Homo sapiens: one gene and its partner. The protein of the gene in region 2 interacts with the protein of the main gene of each other region in a biochemical or structural test. Each region holds a gene or a part of one and is shown on either strand. Other genes may lie near its edges.

Region 1 (16,367 bases), on a different chromosome or scaffold from region 2:
AAGTTGCTCTCTTCTGAATGAGCTCCATTTTGTTTTTAACCCTAAAGGATGATGCCTCAAACAAGCAGTATCCACGGCTTGTTTGAGGTGTACTCCTTGGTGCAGAGGAGAGCAGGACTATCTCTCTCTTTCCCTCATCCTAGTTACCATATTTCCACCAAAGCAGCCTAAGATCAAATCTGTTTTATTTCATGGCCATATCACACTGTTGCCTCACAGAGAATACACTTTGATTAAAATCCATCTTTTAGAAATATTAAAACTGGGCCAGGCGTGGTGGTTCACGCCTGTAATCCCAGTACTTTGAGAGGCCGGGTGGGCAGATCACCTGATGTTGGGAGTTTGGGACCAGCCTGACCCAACATGGAGAAACCCCATCTCTACTAAAAATACAAAAATTAGCCGGGTGTGGTGGTGCACACCTGTAATCCCAGCTACTTGGGAGGCTGAGGCAGGAGAATCGCTTGAACCCAGAAGGCAGAGGTTGCAGTGAGCTGAGATCGCACCACTGCACTCTAGCCTGGGCACCAAGAGTGAAACTCCGTCTCCAAAAAAAACCAAATATTAAAACTGAAAAACCAACTAGGTGCAGCAGCTCACGCCTGTAATCCCAGCACTTTGGGAGGCCGAGGTGGATGGATCACAAGGTCAGGAGTTCAAGACCAGCCTAGCCAACATAGTGAAACCCTGTCTCTACTAAAAATACAAAGATTAGCTGGGTGGGGTGGCACGTGCCTGTAGTCCCAGCTACTCGGGAGGCTGAGGCAAGAGAATAGTCTGAACCTAGGAGGCGGAGGTTGCAGTAAGCCAAGACTGGGCCATTCCACTCCAGCCTGGGCAACAGAGCAAGACTCTGTCTCCCAAAAAAAAAAAAAAAAAAGGATAATACAATGCAGTATTCCTAAATCAATGAGTAGGAAACACTCTGGGAATTGCCTAGCATATACTAACTGCTTAGTAAAAGTTTTAAGACTTCCCCTCCATTAACTCAAAACATCCATAATCAATTCTCAGAAGTACCTCCTTTTCAACAACATAAGCAGCCACAAAAATACCAATAGCCAGGCATTCTGCTAAGAGTTTATATATATAATTTCTTATAATTCCTAAAACAACCCTTTGAGTACAGGAAAGCACAAAAAGTTAACAAAATTAAGTGGCAGAGCAAGGAAAACACACCCTAAAGAGTGTTGACTCCAGAGCTTACCTTTCTAAATACTGATTCACAGTAGCTCTTGTATTAGTTAACTGATAAAACATCTGCTCCTGGGCATTGGCTACACTGTCCACTTTCTGAAAACTCATCAAGCTACACACTTAGTATTTGTGTACTTTAGTGCACTGCATGTGTGATAAAGGGAAGCCTCGGGAAAATGTTAAAATCACTTACATTAAAAACATATACACACTGGGCACAGTGGCTCACGCCTGTAATTCTAGCACTTTGGGAGGCCAAGGCAGGTGGATTACCTGAGGTCAGGAGCTCGAGACCAGCCTGACTAACATGGTGAAACCCTGTCTGTACTAAAAATACAAAAATTAGCTGGGCGTAGTGGCATGTGCCTGTAATCCCAGCTACTCGGGAGGCTGAGGCAGGAGAATTGCTTGAACCCAGGAGGCAGAGGCTGCAGTGAGCTGAGATCGCGCCATTGCACTCCAGCCTCGGTGACAGAATGAGACTCCATCTCAAAAAAAAAAAAAAAAACAATGACAACAACAACACATACACATTCCTGAATCCAGTCAAAGGAAAGTTTTGGTTCAGCTCAAATTTAACATGAACTTGGTGGCTATAATTGTTTTTCTGTCTTACATCTGTCTCTCTTAGGTCTATATATCCTCCTACAGTATTACATACTTATGTCTAAAGGTAAAGATAATAAAAGGGAAAAAGAACTCTAATAGATGTTCCATAGTAACAAACTTGAAATTATCTGAGGATAGACCACTGAAGTCCAGGAGGCACACTAATTATATATGTTTCCAATGAATAAATTACAGCTGTACAGTATTTTAAAACATTAAGGAAGCCATTTATAAATGCTCTTGTAGTTGCCTATGTTTAAAGAAGACAAGAGGAAATGGAACCATTTCAGTTGTCCATTTGTTTGCTATCATTAATATAATTCTCTCCCAACATATAATACTCTACTATCAGTAACACAATTGGGTATAATCAATAGCAATGCTAGTAGAACTATTCCATAAAGAAAATGAGTCCAAGACTTACCTTCCAAATAACTGAGGGGCCTGAGGCAGGATCCTTAACTCAGAAATGGGATTAATACCCTTACAGAAGGCCTCTTGGAGGATTAAACAAAATAATGTACATACAGTTTTTGGCATAGTACCTGAGATTTAGTAAACATCTACTCAATAACTATTGACAATTATTACTCTGAAATCTTAAATTAATGTAAACAATCTACCAGCTTAATGTAATACAGTAATAAAGTATTAGAGAAGGAAAAGTCCACCCCAAAGAACTCTAAAAACCAAAATACAATTCCCCAGGTCAACTCCATCCAAGAAGTATAAAGGTCATAATAAAATGAACCCACTGGATTCCTGTGGGTCCTTAACCCATGGAGATAAGAAAACCTAGCTTAACATTGTTAAAATAGAACTGGGCAACTCTGGCCGGGCGTGGTAGCTCATGCCTGTAATCCCAGCACTTTGAGAGGCCAAGGCGGGTGAATCGCTTGAGCTCAGGAGCTAAAGACCAGCTGGGCAACAAAGCAAGACCTCTGTCTCTACAAAAAATACAAAAATTAGCCGGGCATGGTGGCTCGTGCCTGTGGTCCCAGTCACACAGGAGGATGAGGTGGGAGGATGGCTTGAGCCTGGGAGGCATAGGGGGCAGTGAGCCAAGATCGCACTACTGCCCTCTAGCCTGCATAACAAAACCAGACTGTCTAAAAAAAAAAAAAGAATTGAGCAACTTTGCTCCTCCCTTTAAAAACCTCCAGTGGTTCCTCATCTTCTAATTTACTGACAAAAAGGCCGAACTATTAATACTTACATGGCCAGGCGCGGTGGTTCACGCCTGTAATCCCAGCGCTTTGGAAGGCCGAGGCGGGGAGATCATTTGGGGTCAGTCCAAGACCAGACTGGCCAACATGGTGAAACCCCATCTCTATTAATAATACAAAAATTAGCTGGGTGTGGTGGCACAAGCCTGTAAGCTCAGCTACTCACGAGGCTGAGGCAGGAGAATCACATGAACCCAGGAGGCAGAGGTTGCAGGGAGTGGAGATCATGCCACTGCATTCCAGCCTGGGTGACATAGCAAGACTCCGTCTCAGAAAAAAAAAATGACAATGGCATGCAAGTCCTTCCAAGAATTGAACTCAGTTACCTTCCCAGCTCTCTCCATCAAACTGCTTTCTATTTTCCATTTTGCAAACAGACATGCTTTGACTTCTCATGGCTTTCATGGCTCTTGGCCTTCCCCCCTCTGGAATGGCATCTGCTCCCTCAGTCCTCCACACTGTACTGCAGTTGTCACTGGGTCCTTAACTCCTCTTTTGGACTCTAAGCAAAAGATAACGTACTATTCATTTATAGTTGTAACCTAATATAAAACTATCCATACTGAAAAGTCAATAATGTCTGAAATTTAGATGGTAAAATGCTAACTTACATTTACCCACATCTTCATCTATTTTACTTTTACTGTCATAAAAAATTAAGAATAGTTGACGTAATTGATTCAGTCACTGGCCTATTACCACCCTGACAAGGATGGAATAAGAAATAGGGCTTGTCATTTCCAACCCAAGCTATTTGCAATGGAAAAATATATCCATGCTTTCAAGATTCGTATTTATTCCACAGTGGAAGAGAAAATGTAATGTTCTTTCCTTTATTTATTTATTTTTTTGAGATGGAGTCTTGCTCTGTTGCCCAGGCTGGAGGGCAGGGACGAAATCTTGGCTCACTGCAAGCTCCGCCTTGAGGGTTCAAGTGATTCTCCTGCCTCAGCCTCCCAAGTAGCTGGGACTATAGGCGCCTGCCACCACGCCCAGCTAATTTTTTTATTTTTTTATTTTTAGTACAGATGAGGTTTCACCGTGTTAGCCAGGGTGGTCTCGATCTCCTGACCTTGTGATCCACCCGCCTCGGCCTCCCAAAGTGCTGGGATTACAGGCAAAAGCTACCACACCCGGCCGAAAATGTAATGTTATTTCTAATTCTCGTGAGATACTGGTATAAAACCATAGAATAGCGATTAAAAGTCCCAGCAAGACTGACAAAACACCATGTGTTCCACCAGAAAAATCCACACATTAAAACAAAGGTGCCGGGCACGGTGGCTCACGCCTATAATCCCAACACTTTGGGAGGCCAAGGTGGGCAGATCACCTGAGGTCGGCAGTTCGAGACCAGCATGGAGAAACCCCGTCTCTACTAGAAATACAAAAGTACCTGGGCGTGGTGGCACATGCCTGTAATCTCAGCTACTCGGGAGGCAGAGGCAGGAGAATCACTTGAACCCTCGAGGCAGAGGTTGCAGTGAGCTGAGATCGCGCCATTGCACTCTAGCCTGAGCAACAAGAATCAAACTCTGCCTAAAAAAAAAAAAAAAAAAAAAAACCAGGCTGGGCACAGTGGCTCACACCTGTAATCCCAGCACTTTGGGAGGCTGACGCAGGAGGATCACGAGGTCAGGAAATCGAGACCATCCTGGCTAACACGGTGAAACCTCGTCTCTACGAAAAATACAAAAAATTAGCCGGGCGTGGTGGTGGGCACCTGTAGTCCCAGCTACTCGGGAGGCTGAGGCAGGAGAATGGAGTGAATCCGGGAGGTGGAGCTTGCAGTGAGCCCCGAGATGGCACCACTGCACTCCAGCCTGGGCGACAGAGTGAGACTCTATCTCAAAAACAAAAAACAAAACAAAGGCAGCATTACTTGGCTCACTCCACATTCCATAATTCTTCTGACTGCTTTTACATCCTTCCCTTTTGTCAGTTAGTGTCTCATATACTAACAGTCTCCAATGACACATGCAGAAAGGTAGCTTTTAATTGCTACACAGCTATTTCTCCTTTTTAGTACCTGGATATTGCTTTGAGAACTTCATTTAGGAAGTGAGTGAACCACACCTATCAGTGTAGCTTTATTCTCTAAGGTGACTAACACCTAGGCCCCAAGTTATAAGTTTCCCCAGGATTCCTACCACTCAAGACACATGTTAAAATAATCTGTTAGGTTAAGACCACTGAATCTTAAATCTGAGACATCATATTTTATAGAATCCAGCTCCCTTTATACATATGAAACTGATTCTGGAAAAGTTAATTGTCTAGTTTACAAGGTAACTAGAATCCAGAGCTTCCTGACTCTCCAAACAATGTTAAGTATACTACACGTTACAGTGTTTTAATCTTTTTCTTTGTTTTGAGACAGAATTTCACTTTGTCGCCCAGGATGGAGTGCAGTGGCATGATCTCGGCTCACTGCAACCTCTGCCTCCCATATTGAAGCGATTCTTTTTTTTTTTTTAGACGGAGTTTTGCTCGTCGCCCAGGCTGGAGTACAATGGTGCCATCTTGGCTCACTGCAACCTCCGCCTCCCGGGTTCAAGTGATTCTCCTGCCTCAGCCTCCCTCAGTCCTGCAACAGAGCAGGACTCCAGCTCAAAAAAAAAAAAAAAAAGGAATTAGTTCATTTCTACTCTTACTCTCTGCTACAATATACTTTACTGAAAAATAAGTTCCAAGAATAAAAATTTAAGATGGAATGTAGCTATATGAATTGTACAGAAACCACCTGATTTTTATCAAGTGGTAATATATCATCACTACAGCAAACTCTAAATTCAAGCCGGTGATCTAAAAGTCAAATGATCCAAAACCCATTAGCCATTACCAATTCCCCAAGCTAGTTAGTACACAGAGGGCTCAACTCATTGTGCAATGACCACGAATATGTCATTGAATGTGAAATGATCAAATGTTCTGGAAAATTTATAAAACTTTCACTAGTTTGCACAATTAAAGTTATTTTGAGAGAAAACAACTTCCGTGTGTATCATTACATTGAACTACTCAACTTTGGCTAGTAAAATATGTACTCCAAAAGGTACTCCCTCTGGGGAAAGTGTCATAAATATGCTGCTCTGGAATGTACGTGGAACCTAGCAACCACTTTTAAAGTTGCATTTGCTGATGTCCCTCCCTGTCCATTCGCCCTACAAGACTAAGTATCTTTAAGAATCAAACTAACGGGCTTTCATCAGTTTTTCCCACTGACAAAAATCATGTGATTGGTCTCTCCACCATTCGACTAAGTGAATCACCCAATTAAAAAAAAAAAAAACCGCACACTACAATCTTGCTCTAAGACAAGAGACATTTAACAATTAATTATGCGAAAAGCACAGAAGGTACTGTTAGGCCTTACTCTGAGAATTCACTCTTGCACATTGCTTACAATGTAAAATTTTAACCACCTAGAAGTTACTAGAACATAGTGGACATCTCTCCTCAAGAGTTTGACAAGCCGGAGAGGATGATGAGCTTAACACTTTACTTCCTCCTCTCTGCCACATCAATCTGCCGGGGGATCAAGTCCTGTTCCAGTTTATGGTTCCCAAGAATGGCTGGAAAAGCTATGTATGGAACCTCTTGACAGATTTCTTCCACTAAGGGTAAAAATCGGCGGGTTCTGATGTGACAAGCCATGGGAAATAGGAAAAGAAAAGCGTCAGTTAAAAAAATAATAATAATAAAAGGCAATCCCAGAATGGGATCCTTTGGAAGAAAGTGGGCTCATTCTTCCACCAGGGCTCCTGGAAATCCCAGAAGCTAAATCAGGTAAAATGTCCCGGTAACCTCTGGGAGGCGGGACATGACTGCTAAACCAAGGTTGCAGGCCCGTCAGGGGTGTGACCTAGTGGCCAAGCGGGTAGTGACAAACTTCGGGTACCCCCAAGGAGGGAACCCCGCTTGAGTCACCACAGCCCAGTATGAGTGGGTGAGGGCAAGTCTGGTCCAGTCACCCTGGGGACCACAGCCCACGCCGGGCTCCCGGGGCCGGGCAGAAGCGGCGGGGGTGGGGCTGGCCCGGCTCACCTTTGAAGAAGCGCAGTGCCAGGCCGTACAACTCCTCCAGGCCGAAACCCCAGCGCTGCTCCAGCCGCCGCGCCTCCTCCGCCGCGCCCCCAGCCGCCGCCTCCCCGGGCTCGGGCTGCTCCCCTGAGGCGCCCGGGCCGCGACCGGATCCAGGTGGCGAGGGCGGTGGCAGCGGTGGCGGCAGCAGCGGGGCGCCCTCCGCCCCAGGCCGCTCCTCCGGGTCCGGGCTGAGCGTGAGGCCGTCGACGGACACCTCGAGTCGCTCTGCGTTCAGCACCGCCGCCATCTCCGGCTGCTGCACCTCCTCAGCGGGGACAGACGGCAGCCACGTATCGACTTCCTGCTGACCTCTGACCTCCGCTTACCGACACCGGAACTTCCGCTGCTGAGGAGGCTGGAGGGCTCCGGGAGAGGGGCTGAGGCCTGGCGCCCCACCCCCTCCGGAATCGTCAGTTGCCCTGGCTCAGCGACCACCCTTCAGGCTCCCCAACTCCCGTTGGTCCCGAACTCCCCTCCCCCGCACCCCATCCTTTCGGATCCCAGTTGCTCCAGGTGGGCGGGTGCTACCACCCCCACCGCTCGGTTCGGTGCTGCGGCTGTCAGTGCCCAGCAGGGGCGGGGTCAGTGGAGCCCCGCGCGGGGGTCGGAGTAGGGAGGATTGACGAGGTCGGCCAGCACCCAACCCTCCAGGTCAGAGGCCCTTCACATTTGCAGGGGCCTGCGTGGTTGGCAGAGCTCTTTTGCCCACCACCATCTCGTTTGGCCTTCACAGCAACTCTAAGGAAATGCAGGGCAAATTCCCAATTTTTTTAAAAGGGGAAACTGAGACTGCAGAGAAATTCAGTGACTTTGAGGTTGCAGACGGGGCTGATCCTGGTTTTGCAGGAAGCGCAGCTCATACAATTTGTGGGGACCCTCATTAGGAAAGAGTACAAAAAGTTACGCGCAGAAGGGTAGGAAAGTGAATGTATATTTAGAAAGAGAAAGAAAAAACAAATGATATTTTAAAAGTTAATAAAACCCACAAACATCACACACATAACCGTAATATTTTCATTGACTGCCTGATATTCTTCTACAGGGCGTCTGAGAGCCCAGAAACCTATTTTTTTCTAAAAGATTGAAGTCGCCCCCGACATTATGTATATTCACCTGTGTTTCCAGACTTTGGGAGCACCATTTATGATCATTTTTCCCACCTTTGTTTTGGCTGCGTACTTCTGATTGCCTTTTCCTATAACAATTATTTTGTAACTTTTTTTTTTTTTTTTTTTTTTTGTTTTTTGCAGACAGTCCTGCTGTGCCACCCAGGCTGGAGTGTAGTGGTGCAATTCGGTTCACTGCAACCTCTGCCTCCCGGGTTCAAGCAACTCTCCTGCCTCAGCCTCCCAAGTAGTTGGGATTACAGGTGCTCACCACCACGCCCGGCTAATTTTTGTAAACTTAGTAGAGTCAGAGTTTCCCCATGTTGGCCAGGCTGGTCTCAAACTCCTGACCTCATGTGATCTGCCCGCCTCAGCCTCCCCAAAGTGCTGGGATTACAGGTGAGAGCCACCGCGCCCGGCGTATTTTGTAATTCTCTATAAAGAAAAGAGAAAGATCAGTCTTTTCTCCAGCATGGCTGATTAAATTTGTTTCTTAATAATTGTTTATAAATTTATTTCAGCATCACAACTCATTACTGATATTGTTAACGTACTTTTTTAGGGTTATTGTTCAGTTTGGGAAACCTCTCTCAAGTTTCATGGATGTGCTATGAGATTTTTATGGCCGTTTGGCTGCTTCAGTGACAATTTTGTGTGTGGTTTTTACTGAAGCCCTAGAGAGTTTTTTTCTTTTTTTTGAGACGGAGTCTCTCTCTGTCGCCCACGCTGGAGTGCAGTGGCGCGATCTTGGCTCACTGCAAGCTCCGCCTCCAGGGTTCACGCCATTCTCCTGCCTCAGCCTCCTGAGTAGCTGGGACTATAGGTGCCCACCACCATGCCCGGCTAATTTTTTTGTATTTTTAGTAGAGACGAGGTTTCACCGTGTTAGCCAGGATGGTCTCAATCTCCTGACCTTGTGATATGCCCGCCTCGGCCTCCCAAAGTGCTGGGATTACAGGCGTGAGCCACCGCGCCTGGCCGAGGGTTTTTTTCAGGACAAGATTTGTATGCTGCATTCAGACAGGATCTCATTCATTACGGTGGATAAGACATATAACTTCACATACAGACAGACTCACTGTAGTACAACTATAAGTTTTTGTCCCATAAACATAGGGTTTCTAATCTATTCCCTTTTGCATGCTTCACATAAAAACATGAAGTATGGTGCAGTTATAATTGCAGATATGACTTAGATTCTCAGTGAGTGAGAACCTTCATTTTGATTAGGCATTGAGAGAATTGATCCCTCTCCTTATAATCTTCCACTTCTGATGGTTGGAAGCATATTTTTAAGTCTTTTAATTTTAATTACTCAAAGAAGCTTCATTTTTTATTTAGCTTTCTGACCCTGTGCTTGTGCCTTCAACACTCTCACAATGATTTTCTTTTCCTCGATAAGGAAAACATGCTTGATCCTGTCACAAACACATATAGCACACATGGAACCACCATAGGCCCTGCTGACATGGTTTTTTGTGTTTTGGACAATCTCATAAGACTTCGGGTCTTATAGCACGAACCCCTTGAAGTCTGCGTGGGTACACACCACAGTAGATTTTGGTGCTTTCCCAGCCTTCTTGGTATAAAGGTAAGCAATTATATTACCAGGGGTTCAGGACAGCCTAGTTTTATTAGAAGCTGTATTGTAGGAAAGCCTACAACAGTATGTCAAACGCTGGACCATTCTATGTGCCTATAGACAACATCCCCAGAAGAGGAAAAAGAATGGAAGAATTTTACTAGCTCTTTCTTTTCTTTCAAACCTTGTTGCTCCTCCACTACCCAAGTACTTCCTGTGTCAGGCAACATAGGGTTCCTTCGCCCTTTGGCCTTGCACTTTTGTGACATGGTGCTGGCTGAATTGACATAATGGGCAGTAGGTATATTCCAGAAAGCCATTCCTACACCCATGGTGAGCAATAATTTAAAAACATGCAGAAGTGACTGCAAACCACTTAAATGCATGCCACTGACCCCAAATTAAATGTATCCCTATTCATTGTCCCCTTAGCCAAATCCCCCACAAAGCCTATAGCCATTTCAATACCTCCTAACCAGAGGAGGATGACGAAGGGAAGTTAGAAACGAAGACAGAGGTCTTAAATATCTTACTCTCAAAACTGTTACAGAAGTGTATACTGCTAAGGCCGCTCTAAGGGCCTTGGGAGGGGCCTGTGTAAGCAAGGGGCCCTGAAGCTTGAGCTTCATTAACTTTATGGTAAACCCACTTCTAGTTGTAGAGGACTAAAAACTCTAATTCTACTGCTCTAAGGTCTGTGTTCTTCCCACTTAGCTTGGATCTTTATATTTAGCTTCATTAGCTTAAAAATATGCATATTATGTGCCTAACCTTCAAAATGTTATATATACATATATATTCCCCTGTGTTTTGCTCAGTGTTCTACCTTTAACATTCAATAACTGTTGGGATGATAATGAGTAGGGTAAATATAACCCTTCTTCATGAAATGCTAGATTCTGTTTTCCAAGTTTTCACGATAAGCATTTCTTTTGTAATCAGAAAAAAAGTTATTTTTTTAAAAAGTATACAATAATTATTAAAACCTATAGAATATACCTAGGAAGGTAGGTAAAATATGGTAATTAATTAATTACATGGACTTTTTATACAAAAATTAGCTGGGCGTGGTGGTAGGCACTTGTAATCCCAGCTGCTCAGGAGGCTGAGGCAGGAGAATTGCTTGAACCTGAGAGGTGGATGTTGCAGTGAGCCAAGATCACACCACTGCGCTCCAGCCTAGGTGATGGAGAGAGACTGTCTCAAAAAAAGACATACATTAAAAAAAATTATATGGACTTTTTTATTGTTTTGTAATTTAACATATTGAATATGGTTGGAAAACCCAAACATCCTCTAGACCAAGCATCTGAACCTCTTGCTAATCGAAACATCAAGGGCCATTGTGTAGGTGGTTGCCCTTAATGACTAAAAACATTAGGGGTTGGCACAGTGCGTCATGCCTGTAATCCCAGCACTTTGGGAGGCTGAGGCAGGAGGATTGTTCGAGCCCAGGAGTTTGAGAACAGCCTGGGCAGCATAGGAAGACCCTGTCTCTACAAAAAATAAAAAATTAGCTGGGCATGGTGGCATGTGCCTAGGGTCCAGCTACTTGGGAGGCTGAGGTGGAAGGATCACTTGAGCCTGGGAGGTCAAGGCTCCAGTAAACCATGATGGCGTCACTGCATTCCAGCCTGGGCGACAGAAGGAGACCCTGTTTCTAAAAAATAAAATTAAAAAATTAGAGAATATAACTTCGCTTTAACAGTTCACTGTGGGAGATGAGTTCCAGACACGCTCACCTGAATGTCTTATTAAACTGCAGATTCTGACTCAGTAGGTATAGAGGGAGGCCTGAGAGTATACATTTCTCATAAGCTTTCTGGTGATGCCGATGCTGCTGTCTACAGACCACACTTTGAATAGCAAGTCTAGGAAACGTGTTTTTCCCATGCTTTATTGAGTATAATTGTTGTATAATAAACTGCAAATATTAAAGTTTACAATATGATGAGTTTTGGCACAGGCATATACCTGTATAACCATTACCATAAAATAACAAACATCCATTACTGTTTTGTAATTCCTTCTTCCCCCAAGATTTTTCAATAGATCTTTGTTATAATGCACTTGTCACAGTAGAATCTAACTTACATAAACAGTTCAGCGCAACTATCTGTTTTTCTTTTCCTTTTTTTTTGAGACGGAGTCTCGTTCTGTCGCCCAGGCTGGAGTGCAGTGGCGCGATCTTGGCTCACTGCAAGCTCCGCCTCCCGGGTTCACGCCATTCTCCTGCCTCAGTCTCCTGAGTAGCTGGGACTACAGGCTCCTGCCACCACACCTGGCTAATTTTTTTGTATTTTTAGTAGAGACGGGGTTTCACCGTGTTAGCCAGGATGGTCTCAATCTCCTGACCTCGTGATGCGCCTGCCTTGGCCTCCCCAAGTGCTGGGATTACAGGCGTGAGCCACCGTGCCCGGCCAACTACCTGTTTTTCTATATCCCTGTCTTTTATATGTGAGGAGGCACACAGATTGATCAAAAAGGTGTATTTTTGAAAACTTTCAAATATCTTCTCCATGTCTGTTCTTTTATAAAAGAGGATACTTTTGGGTGTTCTGCCTATGGTGTACCCATTCTTTTATTCCTTTACTTTCTTAATAAACTTGCTTTCATTTAAAAAAAAAAAAAAGGATACTTTTTTTTTTTTTTTTGAGATGGAATCTCACTCTGTTGCCCAGGCCGGAGTGCAGTGGCGCGATCTCGGCTCACTGCAACCTCCGCCTCCTGGGTTCAAGCAATTCTCCTGACTCAGCCTCCTGAGTAGCTGGGATTACAAGAATGCACCACCAGCCAGGCGCGGTAGCTCACGCCTGTAATCCCAGCACTTTGGGAGGCCGAGGCGGGCAGATCGCGAGGTCAGGAGATCGAGACCATCCTGGCTAACACAGTGAAACCTCGTCTCTACTAAAAATACAAAAAATTAGCTGTGCGTGGTGGCGGGCGCCTGTAGTCCCAGCTACTCGGGAGGCTGAGGCAGGAGAATGGCTCGATCCCAGGAGGCGGAACTTGCAGTGAGCCGAGATCGCGCCACTGCACTCCAGCCTGGGTGACAGAGCAAGACTCCATCTCAAAAAAAAAAAAAAAAAAAAAAAGAAGAATGCACCACCATGCCCAGCTAATTTTTGTATTTTTAGTAGAGATGGGGTTTCACCATGTTGCCCAGGCTGGTCTCGAACCTCTGATCTCAGGTGATCTGCCTGCCTTGGCCTCCCAAAGTGCTGGGATTCCAGGCATGAGCCACCGCGCCCAGCCAAAAAAGGATACTTTCCAATCCGCAAACTTTGCTGTGTGAATTTCTTAAGCTCCATTCCATTCAATAATTTTCCACATGAAGTGTTTACCATTTCTGAAATGCTTTCTGAAATTTAGACTTTCCATTTGTTCTCTCCACATATTTTCATCTTTTCTGTAAATATCGTGGATCACTAGACAGGGACTGAGTTCAACTTTTTGTTTCCTGCTTTTTCTGGTGAACTAATAATCAGTACTCAGTAAAGTTTTGCAGTTAGTCTTATTTAGTAATGCAGTACCCTTTAGTAGTGAAAATTATTTTGTATTCCTTGACTGCAAGCACTTAGAGATCAAGGGGCATTTCCCTGGACTTCCACAGTCCCTAGCACAGGATAGGAAACATGGTAGGTGTTCAGAATGTCTTACTGAGTGAATGAATGAAGGTGTAATTACACTATTATGTACGATATCAGTTCAGCTCAACATACATGTAAGGAGTGCCTTGTATACCAGGTATTTTATTTTATTTTATTTATTATTATTTTTTTTTTTGAGATGGAGTCTCGCTCTGTTGTCCAGGCTGGAGTGCAGTGGGATGATCTAGGCTCATCACAACCTCTGCCTCCCGGGTTCAAGCAATTCTCCTGCCTCAGCCTCCTGAGTAGCTGGGACTATAGGTGCGCACCACCATGCTCAGCTAATTTTTGTATTTTTAGTAAAGACAGTGTTTCACTATCTTGGCCAGGCTGGTCTCGAACTTGACCTCGTGATCCGCCCACCTTGGCCTCCCAAAGCGCTGGGATTACAGGCATGAGCCACCATGCCTGGCCGTATACCAGGTATTTTAGGATACAAAGGTGAGTGCTGTGGTATCTACACCCAAGGTGTTTATGGTCCAGTAGGTGAGACTGTGGCAAAAGCACCAAATTAGGGCCAGGCTTCCAGTGCTGGAATTTTACCAACTCGTGACGTTGAGTCAGTTACTTTACTTCTGTTTCCTCCTTTATAAAATGAGAATAATAGTACTATCCCCCTCTTAGGCTGTTGAGAGGACTGAATCTATGAATACTGTACATGTAAAGCACATAGAAAAGGACCTGTTTGAGACTAGGCACAGTGGCTCACACCTGTAAACCCAGCACTTTGGGAGGCCAAGGTGGGAGGATCACTTGAGGCCAGGAGTTCAAGACCAGCCTGGACAACACAGCGAGACCCTGTCTTTACAAAAAATTTCAAACATTGGCCAGGTGTGGTGGTGCACACCTGTAGTCCTAGCTATTCAGGAGGCTGAGGTAAGTGGATATTTGAGGTTATAGTGAACTATGATCGTGCCACTATACTCCAGCCTGGGCAACATAGCAAAAAGGACTAGCCTGACACGTACTGGGCCTTTAGTAAATTTTGTCCACTATTATATACAATGCTCCCTTACAATGTAAAAGAGAGTTTGCACACTCGGGGCTCCCAAGATAAAGCCTACCCACTAGTATCTTTTATTTGGCTTGGAAGAATTAGCCCCTATAATGCTTTAAATTTGAATTGGTTGCTAGCATTTTAAAATCTGGAATTTTAATGTAAAAATCCAGATTTATGACTTACCTTAAAAAACTAAGAAATCTGGCAACTGTGGGCCTGACACTGGTGCTTGACAACAATGAGGTGCAGTTGTGTAGAGAATGCCTTCTTCAGGAGAGACATGTGCTCTCAAGTTCTCAACAGTCCCCCAGCCCATGGTGACAGACACTGTCCATGCTATCTATCATGGACCTATATTTGGTTTTGTAGAAAATGATAAAAATCAGTTTATCAGCTGGGCGCAGTGGCTCACACCTATAATCCCAGCACTTTGGGAGGCCAAGGTGGGTGGATCACCTGAGATCAGGAGTTCGAGACCAGCCTGGCCAACATGGCAAAATCCTGTCTCTACTAAAAATACAAAAATTAGCCAGGCGTGGTGGTGTGTGCCTGTAGTCCCAGCTACTCAGGATGCTGAGGCAGGAGAATCACTTGAACATGGGAGGTGGAGATTGGAGTGAGCCGAGATCGCGCCACCGCATTCCAACCTGGGCGACAAGAGCAAAGCTCTGTCTCAAAAAAAAAAAAAAAAATCGGTTTATCATCTTACACAGCTCTCTATCAATTTATATTGTTACTTGCCTGACCACTGTCTTAGTCTGCTTGAATTGCTATAACAAAATACCATTTACTGGGTAGCTTAAAAACAACAGAAATTTATTGCTCACCATTCGAGAGGCTGAGAAGTCCCAGATCAAGGCTCCAGCAGATTCAGTGTCTGGTGAAGTCCTGCTTCCTAGTTTATAGATGGCCATCCTCTGGCTGAGTCCTCACATGGTAGAAGGGACAAGGGAGCTCTCTGGAGTCTCTTTTATTTTATTTTTGAGACAGGGTCTCACTCTGTCACCCAGGCTGGAGTGCAGTGGCGCAATCTCACTGCAACCTCCGCCTCCCAGGCTCAGGTGATCCTCCCACCTCAACCTCCCAATTAGCTGAGACTACAGACACACTGCATCACACCTGGCTAATTTTTGTATTTTTTTTGTAGAGATGGGGTTTCTCAAGCTCGTCTTGAACTCCTGGACTCAAGTAATCCACCTGCCTCAGCCTCCCAAAGTGTTGGGATTACAGGTGTGAGCCACCATACCTGGCCTGGGGTCTCTTTTATAAGGGCTCTAATCCCATTCATGAGGGCTCTCCCCTCATGACCTCATAACCTCCCAAGGGCCCCACCTCCTATACCAACACATAGGGGATTAGGTTTCAACATACACGTTTTAGGAAGAGGTAAACATTCTGTCTACAGCACCACTGTAGGCATTCATAACTCCCTAAGATAGAAGAAAGAGGAATACACAATGTCTGGAAGGTTTGTGGATGGCTTCCACACAGGATAGAATTATCTGATTGGTCCCTGTGCTCCTTTACATCTGAAGGATGTGGAAACAATCAGATAGGCAGAAGGAATACCATCTGCTAATGCCCTGAGGGCTAAGAGAGCCTGGCATGTTTAGTTATCCCTGGCTGGAGCATTTACTGCAAGGGTGGAGAGATAGGAGATGAGCCTGGGGAGGCCAGCAGGGGCCAGGTGTGCAGGGCCTAGAAAGATTGGCCTGCGGTGGTCCTGTAGGTGGTGGGGAGCCAGTGAAGGATTTTATGCAAGGGAATGTCATGAAGGAGAGGCTGCAGGAGAGGCTGGCAGCAGGGAGCTCAGAATGGAGGTTCCCCTTACAGTCCAGGTGAAAATAATGAGATCTGGAAGAGAAGCAGGGTAGGGAGATGACAAGAAAGAGGAGATTAGTAGCACAGTCA
Region 2 (15,386 bases):
ACTCAACATCAATAAAGTAACACACCTGATAAAGAAATGTGCAAGAGATGTGAATAGATACTTCACCAAAGAAGATAGATGGATGGTAAATAAATATATGAAAAGATGCTTAAGTTAATCTGGCATTAGGAAAATACTCATTAAAAGCAAAATGAAATACCACTATCTACCTATTAGAATTGCTAAAATATGTATTTTTTAATGCTGGCAGGGATATAGAGCAACAGGAACTTTCAATGCCTGCAGATTAGAATACAAAATGGCACAGCTACTTCGGAAAACTGTTTGACAGTTTCTTTAAAAGTTAAACGTACATTTACCAATCCCACTCCTAGGCATCTAACCAAGTTTATAGTAGGTTTACTCATAATCACAGATTCTGAAAATAGCCAAGATATCCCTCAACAAGTGAATGAATAACAAACTGTAGCACATCCAAACAATGGAATACTACTCAGCAAAAGAATGAACAATTGATTCACACAACACAATACTTAAACCTAAAATGCCTTTTGCTACATGGAATAAGCTAAACATTAAAAGATATACATCATATTATTCTATTTATATAACATTTTGAACAAGTCCAGAAATTAACCCACACAAATATAGTTGTCAGGGCTTGAGGGAAGGAGATGTGGCTGAATATAAAAGAGCAACACAAGGGAATTTTTAAGGTGAAGGAACTGTTCTGTATGATCTTGAAGTAGTAAATTCATAACCATATGCATTTGTCAAAACTCACTGAACTGTACATTCCAAAGAGCAAACATAATTGTATACAATTTTTTTAAAACCTCAGCCAGGATGTCAGGAGTTCCAAAAATGGAATGCAGACTGTGACAAATAGATCTAACTATATTATAAATATATGATATAACCTCACTGAAGGAGATGGGGCTAACCTAAGAAACAAAAATGGTGTTTTGACTGGGTACTATAAGGATAAAGACAAAAAGAACTGACATAAACACTGTACTCTGCTTGGTAAATTTCTTTCTCACAGTGGTATGGGTTAGCAATTCTGAAACTACTTCATTGTACACTAGGGTTAAATGAGTAAGTAAATTGTAGATAATGAGATTCAGGTTTTTTACTGTCAGTGAAAGAAGTTACAAATAAGGCAAGAAAGCTAGGATAAACCCCATGGTACTGGATTAGAGTCAGAGATATCAGTATGAACTCATGTTTATTTTAATATATATGTAAATAGATAAATGCAGAAATAAGTATAGATATGTATGCATTATAAATAATCAGTTATTACAGAGAAATATATATTCTAGCCGTGTCCACTGAAAAGTCCTAGAAACAGTAACACCTCAGTAGCAATGAGCGCATCCAGATCTCGATTTCTAAATTGCCAATCTCCAATAAAAGGAACTAGGGCTCCTTGGAGAAATGGCTGCCTATCTAGGGTTGGGGCAGAGAGCCAGAAAGTAAGGAAGTGTTCAAAAAAGAAAAAGAAAAAAAATGGGGTATGTGACCAGGAGCCAATCTGAAGGAGCTCCCAATGATCAAGGCTAGAATAATTTGAGTCACAGAATAAATAACAATAATATTGGATTATATGGATTATAACCCAAATAAAAAATTAAATACCCATCAGTCAATACTGATATAAATAAATCATTAAATAAATTAATGGTAGAGACAAATCTTCCTTACAAAAGAATTCCAAATAATTTATGTAGATACGTCCCCCTCTAAAAATGGAGCTTAATTCCCTCTCCTTCAGTATAGGCTGGACCTAGTGACTCACTTCCAAAGAATAGAATATGAAAAAAGAAAAACAGCAACATCAGAGTGGTGAGACTTGGCAACCACCACCTCAACCAAGTGATCAAGATTAACATCACCAGTGATAAGTCATCGTAATATCATGTAACCCCTGATATAATGTGATGAGAAGGGTACTTTACCTCTGGGGTATTCTTCTGCAAAACCCGTAAGCCCAGTCTAATCATGAGAAAACACTGGGAAAACCTAGATTCAGGGACATTCTAAAAATACCTGACCAATACTCTTCAAAACTGTCAAAGTAATGAAAAACAACAAAAAACTAAGAAACAGTCACAGATTAGAGAAGACAAGGAGACATGCTGATTAAATGCAAAGTAGGCCGGGCACAGTGTCTCACGCCTGTAATCCTGGCACTTTGGGAGGCCGAGGCAGGCAGATCACTTGAGGTCAGTAGTTCGAGACCAGCCTGGCCAACATGGTGAAACTCCGTCTCTACTAAAAAATACAAAAATTAGCCGGGTGTGGTGGCATGCACCTGTAGTCCCAGCTATTGGGTAGTCTGAGATGGGAGAATCACTTGAACCTGGGAGACAGAGGTTGCAGTGAGCTGAGATCGCACCACTGCACTCCAGCCTGGGTGCCAGAGTGAGACCCTGCCTCTAAATAAATAAATAAATAAACGCAAGGCAGTATCCTGGATTAGGTTCTGAAACACAATAAGGACATTACTGGAAAAAATGGTGAAATCTGAATGAAGTCTACCTATAGTTTAGTTTATGGCATTGCACCTATGTTCTCTGTTTTGAAAAAGCTACCATGGTTGTGTAAAATGCTAACATTAGAGGATGCTTTGTGTATACAATAACTGTCTGTCTAATCTTCCCAAGTTGTATGTAAATCTAAGGTTATTCCAAAATCAATTTACTTTTATAACCACTGTGTAGGCTACATATTCAGATCAGTGTCAACTGCTAGTCCATAAAGTCCATGAAAATGAGAAGCATATTAATGCTTTGATAGGAAAAATCAAAATAGAACTGGACTATGCATAGCATTAGTTTACGTGATTATGCCTAATTTTACATTTTGTGATAAAATGTTATTTGGCTTTTAAAACCCTCAGCAGGGGCCGGGCGTGGTGGCTCATGCCTGTAATCCCAGCACTTTGGGAGGCTGAGGCGGGTGGATCACGAGGTCAGGAGTTTGAGACCAGTCTGACCAACATGGTGAAATCCCGTCTCTACTAAAAATACAAAAATTAGCCGGGTGTGGTGGCACGTGCCTGTAATCCCAGCTACTCAGGAGGCTGAGGCAGACGAATCACTTGAACCTGAGAGGTGGAGGTTGCAGTGAGCCAAGATTCGCACCACTGCACTCCAGCCTGGGCAACAGAGCAAGACCGCGTCTCAAAAAAAAAAAAAAACCTCAGCAAGAAGAAATATAAAAACTATTGTACAAAATAAACACTTAAATGAAACTAGGCTCTGCTACAGTTTTCTTCTACTGGGGATAATAATAGTGTTTAGGGCAGCCATGGTTCTTAAGAAAGAAGTGATGAGAGATACCTGTTTTTTTAATAGATTGTCTTGGGTAATCTAAGTAGCACATCACTTGGAAAAGATACGTGAGACAGAAATAGAAAAAGTGAACTGTTCCCTAGGAAGGCAGCGCAGGATCATATATAACTTCATATCTAAATACTGGAAGGGCAACACAGTGTCATACATGAGTACATAGGGCCATATATAACTATTTATTCAAGATATGAGAACCACAGCTATAGTCAGGATTAAAAAATCACAATTCAGCAGTATACAGATTCTAAACTTTCTTTTCAACTTTAGAGATCATATTTTCTTTGGTTAACTTTTAATGAAGGAAATGAATACCATCACTAAAGAGTTTCTTAAACATATAGATTTCTGCTAATCAAAGAAAATCATAATGGAACCTAACTTATCAAACAGAATCACTTTATCTTCAGATTTTTCAGACCACTTTGGAACAAAGAAAACAAAATAACCAACTGATGGGATTCTGAGAAGATGGGAGTAGCAAGGGGCCCCATGGATTTTGTATCTTCCTTTATTCCCACATAAAAACAGACAAAGCAACTAGGTAACAAAAGATCCATGGACAGCCTTTACCAAAAAACTACTTAACAAAGTTTCCTACAAACCCCAAAATAAACGTGGATATAGACAAACCGCCAATAGTCAAAAGATCTGGGTGTCACTGGTGTTCAACTGGGAGGAAATTGAGGGAAGCCAGAGGAGTACAACACCAAGAGGACCTCAAAAGAGCCAGTGGGCATTCACTGGCAAATGCGCCAAGCCAATTACAGAACAGTAGTTGATACAAGGAGGGGTCTTCCCATTCCAATAACAGGTACCTGCCAGGGGCCTACGAGGGCTGAAAGAGCTGAGGCAGTCTGGACCTTTATTAATTCTCAGAACTGAAGAGTTGGGGCTCTCTTCCAGGATAGGGTCCCACACTGAGGAGAATCTGCTGAGAGGAGAATTAAAATTAAGTGACTAAGGAAAGAGGAGGTCCAGATAAAGAGCAGGTGAAAGTGGCAAGGAAAGAAAGGCAGGAAATCCGAGAAATCCAGCTGCCATATAGTTGAACAATGTCTGAAAATAGCACAAGAGGAAACCTTATCAAGTTAGAAAAGCTGTATAAAATCTCTTTCTAAAAGTTCAGCAACACTAAATTCATATTAAAAATGAACTACTGAGGCCAGGCGTGCTAGCTCATCCTGTAATCCTAGCACTTTGGGAGGCTGAGGTGGGAGGATCACTTGAGCCTAGGAGTTCAAGACTAGCCTGAGCAACATAGCAAGATCCCATCTCTACAAAATTTTTTTAAAAAGTCAGCCAGGCATGGTGGCACATGCATGTAGGTCCAGCTATTCAGGTGGCTGACGTGGGAAGACTGCTTGAGCCCAAGAGGTGGAGGCTGCAGTGAGCCATAATCACACCCCTACACTCCAGCCTGGGTGATAGAGTAAGACCCTGTCACAAAAAAGAAAAAAAGAGCAACTGAAAAGTCTCACAATTCAGATACATTACTAGAAGAAAAAAAAGGAGGAAAACGATCATGATAACATCCCGACAGAAAATGGAAGCACGTCAGAGAGCCATGCTCAAAAAAACAGTTCAAAACTATAACCACTTAAATCTACTGAAGGAACTAAAAGGCATTAAAAATGACATAAGATGTGAAAAAATAAACATCAGAAATAGAAAAACCCAGAAATAAAGTGAAAACAAGAAGTGACTGAAAAATTTAAAAAATCATTTTGGAAATGAAGATGAAACTAGAAGGAACAAGAAAATGAGTAAATATAACAAACCATGTCATTAAAAAAAAGCAAAGTTGAAATGAAGGATAATTTTAAAAATCAAAAAGAAATGACCTAAAAAACTAGATATGCAACTACCTTATGACCCTCAATTCCACTCCCCAGCATTTATCTTAGAGAAAAGAAAACTTAAGTTCACAAGAGAACCTGCTGTATATAAACATTCATAGCAGCTTTATTTCTATTAATAGACGGTTAAGCAAACTGATATATACAGGCAAATGGTTAAACAAACTGGTACATACATCCCATCACATACTTCTCAGAAATAAAAAGCAACGAACTACTGATGGACCCAACAACTTAGATGGATCTCCAGAAAATTACATTGAATGAAAAAAAGCCAGTCCCAAAAGGTTACATATTATACAATTCCATACTTCTATAACATTTTTGAAATGACAAAATTTTAGAAATGGAGGAAAGATGAGTGATTACCAGTGGTTAGAGAGGGGTTGGGGTGGGAAGTGACTGTGGTCATAACAAGGCAACACAAGGGATCCTTGTGGTGTTGCAGCTGTTCAATATCTTGACTGTGGCAGTGGATACAGGAACCTACACAGGTGATATAACACTGCAAAACTTAATGATACACATACATACATATACAAATGAATATACAAGTAAAACTGGGGAATATATCTATCTCAATATCCTAATTGTGATATTATGTATTAGTTTTGCAAAATGTTACCACTGGAAGAAACAACAAAGTGTATAAAAGAGCTCTGATTATTTCCTACAACTGCATGTGACTCTACAATTGTCTTCATATTTAAAAAACAAATGAAAAAGAAATGAACTAAATGCAACATGATATCCTGAATTGAATCCTGGAACAGAAAATGGACATTAATGGAGAAACTGGTGAAATGTGAACAACGTCTGGAGTTCAGTTAATATTAATGTACCAATGTTGGTTTCTTAATTTTGTACACTGCTAATGTCACATGTTAATCTTAGGGAATACTAAGCAAAGGATACACCAGACTTCTGCACTATCTTTGCAAATTTTCTGTAGTAAACTTTCTGTAGTGATCTGAAATAATTCCTAATAATTTGTTTATTTTTAAAAAATGTAAGAAATTAAGAGTTACATAGGATTTGCGAGAAACAGATAAATATTGAAGATAAGTAATGTGAATAACAGGATTCCCTGAAGAAGAAAAGCAAAGCAAAGAAACAGCACAAATATGAAAAACCATAATCCAAGAATATTTATTTGAAAATTTTTTTTAAAAAGATTTGAAACTACATCTTGAAAGAGCCCACAATGTACCTCAGAATGTCAACTCAGAATGACCAACAAAACACTCTAGTAAAATTACTGGACTTAAAAAAATCCTTTAGGCTTTAGGCTAAAAGATCATATGACCAGTAAGATAAAGAAAAAAAAGCACTAGATTTTTCAACAGCAATGTTTTTGCCAGAAAAAAAAAATGAGTTACAAATTTAAGATATTCAAGAAAAGAAAAAGTGAGCCAAGGATTCTATTTCTGGCAAACACAAACTTTAGATATAAAAAACACAGACAAAATGTTATGAACGAGCAAGAAAATTCATGAAATATGAATATTCCCTTAAGCCTTTCCTAAAGAATTTACTAGAGGCAAAACTTGAGGCAATCCAAATGACTAAAGAAACATCATTATAAGAACTAGTGGTGAGCATTAAATATACGGTTACTAACAGAATTAAGACTAAGTAAAGACTGGAGGAGAGACAGCATAGTATGTAATGATTATATGCTCTGACAATATATAGGACAACCATGAAAAAAAATCGGGAAGAATGTGAATAGCATATGCAAAAAATAAAAAATATTTTTAAACAGTTTTCAATAATTAAAAGTGGTTGTTGTCTACGGCCATACCATCCTGAACACACCCGATCTCGTCTAAAGTGGTTGTGGTGGTGATATTCGTATCATCACTCCTAGATTACTATATGTGAAATGTAGAATTAAAGCAAATGATAATTATGGATACACTAATTCTGTATTTTCAGTTATGAAAAGAAGATACAGATGTAATACAGAAGAAATTAAGAACCCCGAAATACAAACTAATCTTTGAATCTGAATAGGAACACTCAGTGTGAAATGACAATTCAGTATTTTATATTTGTTCACATATTTTCCTAGCTCTGTCCACCAAAAAGGCTTAAAAGTAATGACAAACTGAGAAGCAATGAATATCTCTAGTGCCTAGATTGGGGTCTTGAAATACTCTTTCCCATTTTTAAAAAAGTTTTTAAAAGAAGGTTTTCTTAGAGAAATGGCTAATTCCATTTCTAAAGTGGAAATGTACAAAATGATCCTGAAACATCTTGTCATACAAGATAGGAAGCTTTCAAAGGACACAGGTTCCCATTGGCTAAAAGGATAATTTGAATATGTATGAATAAGAATTACAGCACACTGGGCCATACTGTCCAAGGTAATTTATAGATTCAATGCCATCCCCATCAAGCTACCAATGACTTTCTTCACAAAATTGGAAAAAACTACTTTAAAGTTCATATGGAACCAAAAAAGAGCCTGCATAGCCAAGACAATCTTAAGCAAAAAGAACAAAGCTGGAGGCATCACGCTACCTGACTTCAAACTATACTACAAGGCGACAGTAAGCAAAACAGCATGGTACTGGTACCAAAACACATACATAGACCAATGGAACAGAACAGAGCCCTCAGAAATAACACCACACATCTACAACCATCTAATCTTTGACAAACCTGACAAAAACAAGAAATGGGGAAAGGATTCCCTATTTAATAAATGGTGCTGGGAAAACTGGCTAGCCATACGTAGAAAGGTGAAACTGGATCCCTTCCTTGCACCTTATACAAAAATTAATTCAAGATGGATTAAAGACTTAAATGTTAGACCTAAAACCATAAAAAACCCTAGAAGAAAACCTAGGCAATACCATTCAGGACATAGGCATGGGCAAAGACTTCATGACTAAAACACCAAAAGCAATGGCAAAAAAAGCCAAAATAGACAAATGGGATCTAATTAAACTAAAGAGCTTCTGCACAGCAAAAGAAACTACCATCAGAGTGAACAGGCAACCTACAGAATGGGATAAAATTTTTGCAAACTACCCATCTGACAAAGGGCTAACATCCAGAACCTACAAAGAACTTAAACAAATTTACAAGAAAAAAAATAACACCATCAAAAAGTGGGCAAAGGATATGAACAGACACTTCTCAAAAGAAGACATTTATGAAGCCAACAGACACATGGAAAAATGCTCACCATCACTGGTCATCAGAGAAATGCAAATCCAAACTACAATGAGATACCATCTCACACCAGTTAGAATGGCAATCATTAAAAAGTCAGGAAACAACAGGTGCTGGAGAGGTTGTGGAAAAATAGGAATGCTTTTACACTATTGGTGGTAGTGTAAATTAGTTCAACCATTGTGGAAGACAGTGTGGCAATTCCTCAAGGATCAGAACTAGAAATACCATTTGACCCAGTGATCCCATTACTGGGTATATACCCAAAGGATTATAAATCATGCTACTATAAAGACATATACACATGTATGTTTACTGCAGCACTATTCACAATAGCAAAGACTTGGAACCAATCCAAATGTCCATCAATGACAGACTGGATTAAGAAAATGTGGCACATATACACCATGGAATACTATGCAGCCATAAAAAAGGATGAGTTAATGTCCTTGGCAGGGACATGGATGAAGCTGGAAACCATCATTCTCGCCAAACTATCACAAGGACAGAAATCAAACACCGCATGTTCTCACTCATAGGTGGGAATTGAACAATGAGAACACTTGGACACAGGGCAGGGAACATAACACACTGGGACCTGTTGGAGGTTGGGGGCTGGGGAAGGGATAGCATTAGGAGAAATACCTAATGTAAATGACGAGTTGATGGGTGCAGGAAACCAACATGGCACATATATACCTATGTAACAAACCTGCACGTTGTGCACATGTACCCTAGAACTTAAAGTATAATAAAAAAAATACAGTTAATCAAAATTAATACCTCTAGGAATACAAATTATAAATACACATATTTCCATGGAAAAATTATAAAATAAGTCACCAATGCTAAAACACCAGAAATAGTTGCTATTAGAAAACTTTACCAAATTGTCAAAAATGAGATAATCTAAGTGCTACAGAAGTTGCTGTTTATATTGCTCCAAAACATAGAAAAAGAAAATGAAAAATTACAAACCATCTCCCTATGAATACTGATGACAACATTCTAATAAATTTTAATTAGAATATTAAATAAAATATTAGCAAACTAAATCTGACTAGATACTGAAAAATATTATCACCAAGTGGATTTATTCTAGTAATTCAAATATCATTAATTATTATGAAATCCATTATGGAAACCCATACCACTACCACATGAGTTTCTGATTGACCCTCCCTAGAAAGGAGCGTGCCCATCAGCATCCTACTGAATATCATTGAATATCATAGCAAATGAGGAACACATACACATGAACACAGGATAATAATGATAATATTAATGGCAACAATTGAGAAACATTTAATTTAAATGCAAAGTGACTGTACCACTTTATATACTCTTTAATCTTAACAAAATCTGTAAGATAAGTATTATCATCATCCCCATTTTATAGAGGGAAACTGACACTCAGAAATTAAGACATTTCAAGGTCCCTCAGTTAAATATATAATACAATAGCAGTCAGGCAGGGTGGCTCACGCCTGTAATCCCAGCACCTTAGAAGGCTGAGGTGAGAGGATGGCTTGAGCTCAAGAGTTCAAGACCAGCCTGAGCAACATAGTGAGACTGTCTCTACAAAAAAAAAAAAAAAAAAAAAAATTTAATTAGCTGGGCATACTGGCATATGCCTGCAGTCCCAGATATTCGGGAGGCTGAGGCAGGAGGATCACTTGAGCCCAGGAGTTTGAGAGTGCAGTCAGCTATGATCACACCACTGCACTCCAGCCTGGGCAACAGAACAAGACCTTGTCTCAAAAAAAAAAAAAAAAAAATTAAAAAGATTGATAGAATAAAACAAAAAGCTATTTAAAGGAAAAATAGATTACTTTTCTCACATAACCATTTAAAAATATGTACATTTTAAGAAAGGAAAGACTAATATTTAAATGAGATAAAAATCTGAGAGAGTGCTAGAGATGTACTGTTCAGGCAGGACAAAAGGAGTCTCTCATAGATTGATTCAACAGTCTCAGAGATCCACAGGAAAGCAGGTGACATAGTGGGAAGAGCACCAAACTGGAAGCCAAGGAACTGAGTTTTCCGTCCTGGCTCAATAAGAAGCTGCATCATAGTGAGTAAGTCACCTTAAAGCGTCAGTTTCCTCATCTTAAAATGAAGACTAACAAGGACCATTCTAATGCCCCCTACTCTACAGCTGTTGACATTAAAGGAATAATCTGGAAATGTAAATGGAAGGGCATCTCACCCACAGTTGTAGGCTTTTGGTAGCTCAAAGGTTGGGAACTACAGGGCAAGAAAGCCAGTAAGTAGCCATGCTTAAGCTAAATGAAGAAAGATGGGTACTCCCCTCTATTAGGCTCACTGAGGACAGAAATGGGCAAATGTATAGATAAAAATTAATAAAGGGGAAAATATTCATAGTCATAGTCATAAATCTATGTATGTATATGTATATATACATATGTATACGTGTATGTATATATACATATGTACACGTGTATGTATATATACATATGTACACGTGTATGTATATATACATATGTACACGTGTATGTATATATACATATGTACACGTGTATGTATATATACATATGTACACGTGTATGTATATATACATATGTACACGTGTATGTATATATACATATGTACACGTGTATGTATATATACATATGTACACGTGTATGTATATATACATATGTATACGTGTATGTATATATATACATATGTATACGTGTATGTATATGTATACATATATGTAAAGATTAATAAAGGGGAATAGTCATATTCATAGTCATAAATTCATGTAAGGAATATGTATGACTGTTGGACAATGTTCTTGCTGTTATTTTATAAGGCACCAAAATAATGAATAGCAACTAAGGAAAAGAATAAAACACAGAGCTTCATGCCAAGGCCAGGGATTCCATAAAACACTAAGGCAAATAAAACAATTCCTCAGTCTATGCTGGTCACAGCTTTCACAAACCCTGCCACAGGACCTTAACACTTATGTGTTGAAGTGGCACTCAGAATTAAGTAAGTTTTATTTTCTCCAAGTCTTCACTGTTATCAATGATTATTCTTATAACAACCACCTGGTGTTCAGCATTATGCTAGGAACTATAAAAATATAAAAAGAATTATAAAGCATGTCCCTAGCCACCGAAAACAGAACAATATGCACAGGAAAATAAGCAAAATAACTGAAGACAGTGAGTGCATGCCTGTGTATATATGCATATATGCCATCTACTTTGGAATTTAAATCACATTTTCCCACAGAAACACAGAGAAGGTGGTTAGGTTTCAGTTGAGGTGACTCCTCAAACTTATTTCATGCTTATTTAGTTAAGCCTCAGTAGCTGTCCTTAATTCCTTAAATCTCAAAGTGATTTTCAACCAAGTTGAGGGGCTAATGGGTAGTGCTGTATAGCTGGAAATAACACATTCGATATTATGACATAATTTTACAATTAGAAAATGAACAACTATTTTTCATGATGCAGAAGCCACTATTTTAATTAAATGAATTTGTAAGTGGTAGCTATAACATACATACACAGCGTGACCTGCCAAACACTGCTCCAATATCTTTACACATAACTTACTTTTCGTTATTTAACTCACTTTATTTATTTATTTATTTATTTATTTATTTAATGTTATTTATTTTGAGACGGAGTTTCACTATTGTCGCCCAGGATGGAGTGCAGTGGCGCGATCTCACTACAATCTCTGCCTCCTGGGTTCAAGCGATTCTCCTGCCTGAGCCTCCCCAGTAGCTGGGATTACTGGTACCCGCTGCCACGACTGGCTAATTTTTGGTATTTTTAGTAGAGACAGGGGTTTCACCATGTTGGCCAGGCTGGTCTCAAACTCCTGACTCCAAGTGATCCACTCGCCTTGGCCTCCCAAAGTGCTGGGATTACAGGCATGAGCCACTGCGCCCGGCCTAACTCACTTTATTCTTAAAACAACCGCAAGAGGGAGTACCGTCAATATTCCCAGTTTTAAGGTGAGTAAACTAAGGCAGAGGGATGTTAAGTAATTTCCCCAGTCACATAGTTCGACAAAGCTTCTTGGTGGGTGAAGATACACAGAAAATATTTTATTTTCTGAATAATCTCATTATCCAATATTCTTTACTCGGGTTGAAAACAGAATGAAGGGATAAAGGCACTATGTTAATAGTTAGGTAAGTACTTTTTTTTAAAGCAGTAAGTAAACTAAAATGATTCATATTAGTATGGCCCCAAATAATTCCATATTGTTTATACCACAGACAGGTTCACACAAGGGCCCTAAGATATATATACATGGATGTTATATATATATATATATATATATATATATATATATATATATATGGATGTTACATAACAAAACATGTTATGTATGGATGTTACATAACAAAACAAAAATCCATGTGTGTATATATATATGTATATATGTATATATGTATATATATGTGTATATATGTATATATGTATATATGTGTATATACGTATATATGTATATATATGTGTATATACGTATATATACGTATATGTCTATATACGTATATATATACATATATACGTATATATATGTATATATATACATATATACACATGGATGTTATATAACAAAACACTACAGCAGTGTTTTGATGGCTAATGACTGAAAATCTAAATGTCCATCAATGGGGACAGGCTAAATACTATTTTTATATTTTTACAAAGGACTGCTGTGTAGCCATGGAAAGGATGAGGTAGTTTTATACCCATGGATATTGAAAGTGCCTAATATACAGTACTAAATGGCAAAAGCATGTGTATTAGGATTCCACTTGTGGGAAAGACAGAAGGGGGTATATATTATCATGTGCTTTATTATGATCAGAAAGTTTCTTAAATATAACCAAGAAATTATTTACAGTGCTTACTTCTGGGAAGTGGGGAATGGAGATGGGTAGATCAGTAGATAGAAAAGAAAAAGACTTTTTTTACATTGTATCCTTCTGTATTAAATTTCCTTTTATCAAAAGCATATAGCTGATTTTAAAATAGCTTAATTAAAAATACAGCAATATAGAGCTTAGTCTCCTTTTACATAATGGTTTCTAACCACAGACTGGTATGTAATGATCAGTGGTATTCCTAATAGTAATTAACCTAGAGAAATTAATGAATGATTTATTTTATAAACAAGGATAAAGTCAACATCCCTTTAATTAATCCATTAATCAAAGGGAGAAAAAGAAAGGGGGCCTATAAAACTCAAGCAGAAGGTTGAAAAAAATCTTCTAAAGATCATGTTTAAGAAAGGCTGCATCCCAGAGTCTGGATGCCAGAAATGCCAACGACCTTCTTGAAAAACAAGGAAGTATCTTTACGTGATTGTCAAATTGGGTTGGGAGGTCCCAAGGTGTGGACAAGGCTTTTTAAAAACTTCATTCTTTTACGTTTATACTTTTGCATATTTCATATTATACACAACATATTTACAGTGGTAGTCATACACTATAAATAATTAAACACACAACATTTGGGGAGATGCATGCTCAAAAATGTTTTACTGATAGGGAGTGCAATTAAAAGGTTTGGAAGCTGCTGAGGTAGTAAAAAATATTGATGCAGTGAAAAGAAAAACATTAAATGGTCATTCTGTGGTCAAGGGATGAGAAGTAAAAGCTATGAAGCAGTTAATGTACAATGCCTGCAACTTTTGAGTACTCTTCAACTTTTTCCTGCATCTATTCCAAAACCAAATCCTGCCATTTTTCCAATAGGATATTTCCTGAGTTTGCCCCTTCATAACCATTCTGACCATCTAAATCTTATCAATTCACGCTTTTGGAAAGGCCTCTGGCCCTTATGTAAAGAGCCCTCCACTTGCTTGCATCTTGCACAGAACTGTAAAAAGGTCCTTTAAATGCTCAGACAGCTTCCAACTATCTCCAAAAGTGAAAGTACTTACCCATGATTGTAAATATCCCTGTCCCACTCTCAAACTGTCCGCTCCCCATAGACCAACTGGAGCTCTTTAAATAAGTCAGACAAATATATTCCTCATTCCTCAAAGGACTCACCCTCCCTTTCACATTCCGGTTGTGCAGATTAAACATACTCCACACCATCAAACCAAGTTATTTTTCCTCGAGAACTCTCTTAGAGGTTCCTTTTTCTCTAACAGCCTGCCCACCTCTGATTCCTGGGATTTTCGTGTTGACGGGATCGTTGGGATCTTTCCTCTCTTCTCATCTTTCCAGTAACCCATTAGCATTAGCAGGATTATTGGACAGGCCTCCGTTTGCATTAATATCTCCAATGATTCTGTGATCTCCGCCCTAAAGACCTTTGATTTCTTTTGGTCGCGCCTCCCCTTCGGGACACCAAGTTTGTTTAGGGCCTGAGCACAGGGGCCCAGCAGGTTCTTTCCGACGTCAGCGGCTGCGTACGGAGGCCGACTTAGGCAGGCCGCTCCAGGAACAAGGCCGTGCGGACAGGACTGACCTAGGCGCTTTTCCCCGTCGCTCCCAGAGGAGAAACGTACCGGGGAGGGGACAGACCGTGAGCAAGTGGTCCAAGTCTGCGCAGGGTGACCCCGAAGGCCCACCGGAGAGGCCGAGGCTTGTGGGCTACTAGAACTAGGCCTGGTAGGTGAAGGAGGCGGGTGAAGGGCCGGATCCAGGACTGAATCCGGGAGAGGCGGGGCGAGGAGGGGACTCCGGTGTAGCTGCTTGGGCAGCTCCCGCGGCCCCTCTGGCGGGGGTGACCGTTATTGGACTCGCAGAGGGAAGAGTTGGGTAGCGTCCCCTACTCACCTAGAAGCGCTGCCGCCTGAGGCTCCAGCTGCCCCCCTCCCAATTCAAGCCACGTCAGCTCGGGAAGCCCGTACGCGACACCTTCCACCGCCGCGCCCCGCCAGGGACTCAGCCACTAGCAGTTGGGACGGAAGATGGGATTAAGACACCGACCAATCAGGACTATCGGCAGGACGTTACCAGGGAGACCAGGCACACCTTGTTTGTTACCAACCTATCAACAATGACGGAAACCAATCAACGACAGAAGATGCT

Evidence for each region.
Region 1: the proteins of GOLGB1 (region 2) and ACBD3 interact in far-western blotting, tested with the Homo sapiens proteins (one study listed by BioGRID).

What each region holds. Positions count from the first base shown.
Region 1 is NC_000001.11:226,179,311-226,195,677, forward strand, and holds the start of ACBD3 (Golgi resident protein GCP60), read right to left. Parts: upstream 7,432-16,367; 5' UTR 7,366-7,431; coding exon 7,080-7,365; intron 1-7,079. UniProt on the Homo sapiens protein: Involved in the maintenance of Golgi structure by interacting with giantin, affecting protein transport between the endoplasmic reticulum and Golgi. Involved in hormone-induced steroid biosynthesis in testicular Leydig cells.
Region 2 is NC_000003.12:121,734,501-121,749,886, forward strand, and holds the start of GOLGB1 (golgin subfamily B member 1), read right to left. Parts: upstream 15,242-15,386; 5' UTR 15,132-15,241; exon of another isoform or gene 14,510-15,131; intron 1-14,509. UniProt on the Homo sapiens protein: May participate in forming intercisternal cross-bridges of the Golgi complex.